Linked DNA regions of Homo sapiens. The protein of the gene in region 2 purifies or fractionates together with the protein of the main gene of each other region. This does not show direct contact. Each region holds a gene or a part of one and is shown on either strand. Other genes may lie near its edges. The genes, in order: PSMG2 and A1CF.

What was found.
Region 1: the proteins of A1CF (region 2) and PSMG2 purify together in Homo sapiens (affinity purification with mass spectrometry; 2 studies listed by BioGRID and IntAct, with this or other methods). This does not show direct contact.

Annotation. Positions count from the first base shown.
Region 1 is NC_000018.10:12,719,981-12,723,408, reverse strand, and holds part of PSMG2 (proteasome assembly chaperone 2), read right to left. Parts: intron 2,900-3,428; coding exon 2,726-2,899; intron 1-2,725. UniProt on the Homo sapiens protein: Chaperone protein which promotes assembly of the 20S proteasome as part of a heterodimer with PSMG1.
Region 2 is NC_000010.11:50,816,028-50,819,856, reverse strand, and holds part of A1CF (APOBEC1 complementation factor), read left to right. Parts: intron 1-3,577; coding exon 3,578-3,829. UniProt on the Homo sapiens protein: Essential component of the apolipoprotein B mRNA editing enzyme complex which is responsible for the postranscriptional editing of a CAA codon for Gln to a UAA codon for stop in APOB mRNA.

The DNA.
Region 1 (3,428 bases), on a different chromosome or scaffold from region 2:
TATATCTAACTATATCTAGTTAGGTCTCTCTAACTCCAAAACATAGTCTCCTATCATACTATAAACGCCTCAAGCTAGTGATGAGATGGAGATACACCAAGGCAAAAAGTTTCCTGCTTGCCAATAAATGCAAAAATTACTCCTAACACCCTAAAACCAAGAACTATGAGAAAAATGCCATGCCAAAACTTGAAAGCACGAGACTGACAGAGAAGAGAGCTACAGAAATAAAAGTGAGCCGAGTTCTAAGGAAGGAAAGGCACCGAGGAGACTCTGATATATACATTCGGAAGTCTCAGATGATACCAGGCTAACTTTAGTTTCTGTCTCTAAAAACTACAAAGTAGAAACTGTTAGCCTCACTCACCCTAGCCCAGTACTTGGTTCTCAAACACCTTAGGGGCTCTCAATCTTTGTATGGAACCACTATGAGCTCTGATGGCTCAGAAAATTCCAGTTCCTAAATGCGTCTGCTGTGATGGCCTCAGGCAAGGCTCTCGCCTGGAGAAGGCTGGCTCCGAGGCTGTGCTTGCATTTTCAAGGCTCTAACTTGGAAAGCGCAGGGGTATGCTCTTCAGCTTATCGCGCCTCTTATTAGTTTGTCACACAGTGTGGGATAATCATTTCAATATTACCCTCTGGTCTTCTGCTAAAAAGAAAGGCAGAGGATGACTATTATTATTACTTTTTTATTTGGAACTATTTTATTCTGGTTGATACAACTGAGTATTTTAAATATTGTTTCTTCAGGGTAAAATCCGCATTTCCTGAATGTTTGATGCTGAGTAGGTCTAACTTTTATAATACTTTCTGTTTATCACCGCTAACTTTGTGGGCAAGCTTATAGCTAACCAGAAGCTGTTCTTTGCCTGTCCTCATAGTTTCACCCTATACCCAAGAAGACAGACCCAAGGAAACAGACCCCTGGACTCTGATGAGCAGCACCCCTGCCCTCGGATTCTCTGCCCTGTATTTCCAGTTGCCTCGGCCTCCCTGTAGTCTTAACTGATTTCCTCCACTCAGCTCTGCTTGGGTTCCGCTCCCTGTGCTGCAGTCCAGAAAGTATCTCAAGCAGAAAGCCAGGCAACTGTAGACTTAAAATTTGCCTTCTCTTAGGGATGACAGCTATGTGCTGCCTGTAGTCCAATGTCTGGAAAACAGTTGTTTCATAAATTGTCAGGTTCCAGTATTTTTATGGCAGGAGGGCAAGTCTGATATCAGTTACTCTGTCTTGGTCAGAAGCAAAAGTTTAGGAGGATTGATTGGTAAAGTAAGTGCAACAAAGTATAGAAGAGGTGGAGTGCAGTGGGAGTGCAGACGCAACTTCCTTGTCTAGAAGACAGGAAAAGGCAAGATTGCAGACAGGAGGTGAAGGGTAAGTTGACTCTTAGAAAGGAGGTAGGTGTTTGCAAGGGGGACAAGAGAGGAACACGGAACAAAAACACAAGGGAAATGAGAAAATACTGAGATGAGTGAAAATGAAAACACGACATGTCAAATCCCAGGGCATGCAGTGAAAACAGCACTAAGAGGAAAATTTACAGCTGTAAACACATTCAGTAAAAAAGAAAAAAACTTTTAAATTAATAACCTAAGTTTACACCTTGGAAAAGAGAAAAAAAAGCAAATCAAATCCAAAGCTAGCGGAAAAAAATAAAGATTAGGTAAGAGAGAAATAATAGAGAATAATAGAATAATAGAGAATAGAAAAACAATAATCAGCAAAATCAAAACTGGTTCTTCAAAGAAAAACAAAACTGACAAATCTTTAGCTAGCTTGACTAGGAAAAAAAAGAAAAGACTCAAATTATTAAAATAAGAAATGAAAATGGGAACATCAACACCAATTTTACAGAAATAAAGTTGGGAGTTATTATTTATGGGTACAGATTTTTTAATTTAGTATGACGACAAAGTTCTAGAAGTAGACAGTGCTGATGGATGCAGATGCTGTGAATTAATGGCACTTGATTGTACGCTTAAATATAGTTAAAATGTGTGATAAATGTAAATTTTGCACGATGTATATTTTACCACAATTAAAAAAAAGTGCGCGTGTAGAGGTTGCAAAGAATAAGTATTAGAATCCCTAAAAAGTCACACAAAATAAAAGCATTAAATATGGCTTTTGAGAAACCAGTTCTTCTATAACCAAGTTTAAATCTTTCCCCTAAATGCAAGAGCTCTACAATAGTACCAGTTTTGTAAATATATTTTCTTTTTTTCTTTTTGAGACGGAGTCTTGCTGTCTCCCAGGCTGGAGTGCAGTGGCGCGATCTCGGCTCACTGCAAACTCCGCCTCTCGGGTTCACACCATTCTCCTGCCTCGGCCTCCCGAGTAGCTGGGACTACAGGTGCCCACCATCACGCCCAGCTAATTTTTTGTATTTTTAGTAGATACAGGTTTTTACCATATTAGCCAGGATGGTCTCGATCTCCTGGTCTTGATTGATCTGACCTCGTGATCCGCCTGCCTCGGCCTTCCAAAGCGCTAGGATTACAAGTGTGAGCCACCGTGCCCGGCCTAGCAATATATTCTCAAAGTTTCAGTAAGTAATCCAATACATTCTCTGACTTAATTTTGTTTTTTTTGTTGTTGTTTTTTGTTTGAGACAGAGTCTTGCTCTGTCACCCAGGCTAGAGTGCAGTGGCACGATCTCAGCTCACTGCATTAATTTCATTTTTAAGTAAAGTGGGAAACAAATGAACAGGCAAACAAACTCACCTTTCATCATAGAGTGTTTTTGTGATACCTCCTCCCGGAATGCGGATACAAAACTCGGAATCATCTATTTCAGGAATGCACCGGCTTTTTTCCATTTCTTCCCAGTTAAGGCTCTTTATTTTATTTTGAACACTTTTTTGCATGGAAGGTGTAAGTAGGTACCGGAAGGGAGTACTAGAAATAATCATATAGTTAACTTTTTAAAAACTCTAAAGCAAACATCGGTTCTTTAGCTAAAATTCTCTTGGTCTCCATATATTCTGCTGCACAGGCAAAACACAAGTTTCAGCAGACTTAAGTAAAAAATATTGCTCTGATTTGCTACTTACTTACTTACTTAGGAGACAATATAAAAAGACAGAAACACTTAGGCAAGCCCATTGCAAAAATTTCCCACAGCTTTCCTCCCTTCTGCCATGAAGCCTGTAATGTCTTTTGTGAAAGTCCTGGAAATTAGCTCATTTTGAAAGGTAACTCTTGGCTTGTTGGTATTTTTTCATCCTGGTTTTATAGGTGTCTAAGTGATAAAAGTTATGATCTACATCATCTAAAACAGTTACAGTGAGCCAAGACTGTGCCACTGCACTCCAGCCTGGGTGACAGAGTGAGACTCCATCCCCAAAAGAATAAAAAATAAAAAATAAATGATCTAAATGCTACATCTTGGGGCCGGGCGTGGTGGCTCATGCCTGTAATCCCAGCA
Region 2 (3,829 bases):
GTTCAAAGGAAGAAGTGGGCTATAAAGAATAAAACATCTTCATGGATATGAGAAGATAATATTTAAGAGAAGCCACGAAAATTGGGTATAATTTCAAAAATCAAAATATGGAAAGACAGGAAGTCTTAGAGGCACAGAATTTGAGAAGAGCAAGACAAGATTGGAGAACAGGAAAATGTGGAGTAACTTGGCTGGAACATAATGCACGTGGGACTGTGTTACCTATCGGATCTGGCATCGGTCAGGGTCCCAAAAGAAAACAAATAGCAAAGGAATTAATTACAAAAGTGCGAGTGGGGACTAGGGAAATCAAAAAAGAGTGTCAGAATTTGGGGCTCACAGCATTCTGGAGTCAAAGGTACAAGGGGCTGGAGAATTAATAGAAATCCTGAAAGGGGAGAGAATTGTGTAGAGCAGATCTCTTTGCAAGAAGTTGCTGGGTGCAGTGGCTCGCACCTGTAATCTCAGCACTTTGGGAGGCTGAGGTAGAAGGATTGCTTGAGCCCAGGAGTGCAAGACCAGCCTGGACAAGATGGCAAGACCTCATCTCTACAAAAAATTAGCCGAGCATGGTAGCATGGACTACTACAGTAGTCCCAGCTACTCCGGGGGCTGAGGTGGGAGGATCTCTTGATCCCAGGAGGCTGAGGCTGCAGTGATCTATGATTGTGCCTTTGCACTCCAGCCTGGGCAACAGAGTGAGACCCCACCATTAAGGAAAGAAAGAAAAGAGAAAAGAAAGAAGCAGTGATTTTGGTCAAAGGACACAGTCAGCCCAAGGTGACCTCTCAAAGACGGGTCCAGCAGAATAAATGCCCCGAATTCACTGTTGTCTCTTCTCCAACCTCCTACCAGTGTTCCCCATTGGCTAAATGCAATCACAATCTAGAAGGCTAAAGAGGACCCCATGTAGAACAGCTTCCCAGAGCAGAGAGCAGGCTGGAGCTGGTAGGTGGTGAATTCCATAGGCAGTGGATCCAGATGGCAAAGGGAGGATCTCTTAGCCTAGGCCCTTCAGACACTGTGGAGCCTCTTGCATATTAGCTCCTCAGGGGCCCACTCAAACTCAAAAAGTTTGAATACTGGAGGGTGGGGTGGAGAAAGTATTCACTCTGAAATACAAAAAAGAAAACTGCAAAGAAAAACTAATGCATAAATACATGTCTATAAAGAAAAGCATTATTTCATCTTCATTGATGATCACATTTAGTATCATAAAAGTGTTATTACTTGGAAAACAATTTGTAAGTTAGATTTTCTCTATATGGAAACATTCCTGAGTATACATGATGATTGCTGGGAAGGAACAGCCATCACAAATTAAATGCCAAAAATTACGTTGGAATAATTACAATTGAAACATATTCAAATTCCCAATTTTTGCAGCTAGATATTTTTAGAGTAATTATTTACACATATTATTTAGTTAAATATATATTTAATATTATATTTGACTATAATGTGGTATGGAAAAATCAAAAGTAAGTTTTCCTAGGAACTATGAAGGTTTTTGAGCATATATAGAGATATTTATATTTAATTTGTTAGATGAAGTGAGATCTTGAAATTTTTTCTACGATAATTATCACATTTACAATTTAGGAAAATTAGCCTAGTAAGAACTGACTTTTTAATACAGGTGAGAGAAACATGTCATAGAAACTAGTTATAAAGCTATTATAGTCAACCAAATGGGACAAAATAAAGTCTTGAACTTAGGTAGGAATGGAATGTAGGAGACAGCCATATGCAGAACAGTAAGGGATAAATTCAAAGGACGCAGGAACTGATTGGAGATGGGGTGAAAAAGAAGGACAAGTCATTATAAGCTTCCAATATGGTAGGTTGTTATGAAAGTCAGGAAGGGAAGCCTATTCAGAGAGAAAAATGATGAATTGAGCTTCAGAATGATTATTCATTTATTCTTTTTGTAAGTCTATGAAGTGAAAGAAATTTTACTAAGCTTGGGCTATACAGATTAATAAGATATTGTCCTAGCTCTGGAAATATCTAAACCAAATAACTAAAATACAATATTGAATTTAAAATGCTTTTGGATGGGACAAAGGAAGGCAGAACAAAATTTGTTACAAGATATCTGAATTTGCCGCAAAGAATCATTCCATGCAAAACATCTCTTGATATGGAAGTGCCTATAAGCAGAGACCTATTTGGGTCTCTCATCTTCCTCAAGACTGGACTGAAGATATAAAGAATCTTATACCCAAGTTCCTCCCCTATTTTCAGTATGCCAGGTCTACTTTTTCTAATTACATCAACATCAATATAAGATTGTTGAATATCAGCTGGATTCTGTCTGTCTCTCAGAGTATTCCATCTAACTTATTTGACACTGGCTCCTGCTACTAAAAAGTAAGGTAAATACATAATACTGGGGACAAATTGACCAAGAGGCTGAACAAAATGGTCAGGATGACCATGAAGCACAAGCTTTGTCCAGCAGACTTCAATAATCCAGGAACCACTGAGTCACTGTTGAAATCAGAGGGTAAGGGTGCACACTCAGCTGCTGTGAATGGGAATTTCTGTAGAAACACTTTACATAAAAGTGTTCTTTATATAAAACAGAGGATCTTCACATTCTTATTCAAAAACAAAGCCACAAATGCTTTCAGACAATACTTTGTTCCTTTGATAATAAATACATCAATCTATCAAGAATTTCTTGAGAGCCATCATTGTTTATTGTGTAGGCAAGCAATACATAGAAGTTAGTAGCACACGTAGATCTACATACATCCATTATCTTTGACATCTGGAGCTGTTTGCAGTCTCAGAATTTGTGTCAGAATTCTTAAGGACAGGTTTTAAGCAGTGCATGATCTGAGAACCTCAATACTACTCTCACTCCCAACTACTCCTGACCCCTGTCATCCCTGTTTATTAGCTCCCAACTGTTCAGCAGATCAAAAGGTGGCTTCACAAGGAAGAACCTGTGGCAGGCAATGCAACAGCCTCCCAGATTCCTCTTCCTTTGGTAGAGCCACAGTATGTCTCTCTTCTCCAGTGAAAACTTACTTGTGTGGCTGCTCTAAGGAGCAAGACAGTTAGCGGGCTATCAGCTGGAAGGGCCTGATTTGGCTGCCCATGCTAAATGCTAATAATTGATAAGATTTCTTTATTGGTTTCCTTTCACCTTCATCTTATTGTGCAAGGTAATGGAGATTTTATACCATCCATAACAAACCTAAATTGTCTTGTAGTTATATAATTATATAAATATGTAATTTAAAACACATATATGACCTAATAAAAATATTACATAACTTTCTGTCTCAGTGACTGTAACCAGATTGTAAATTTATAATGAATATGTCAATGGACACTGGCCAATATGTCACTGTCAAACCTGTTGGCATCTTATGCAACTTACCAACAAAATGGCTCAGAAAAAGTTCAACTGGCATACAAAACAAACCTATAAAATGACAAGATACAATCAATAAACCTACAGCAAATAGTCTAACACTTAGAAGGAGTCATGTTATTAGGGCTCAGCCACACTTGGTTATCTTCATATCATCTCGCGTTGATATTTCTTTGCTCTCTACAACAGGTGCTGGATGGTTCCCCCATTGAAGTCACCCTAGCAAAACCAGTGGACAAGGACAGTTATGTTAGGTATACCCGAGGCACAGGTGGAAGGGGCACCATGCTGCAAGGAGAGTATACCTACTCTTTGGGCCAAGTTTATGATCCCACCACAACCTACCTTGGAGCTCCTGTCTTCTATGCCCCCCAGACCTATGCAGCAATTCCCAGTCTTCATTTCCCAGCCACCAAAGGACATCTCAGCAACAGAGCCATT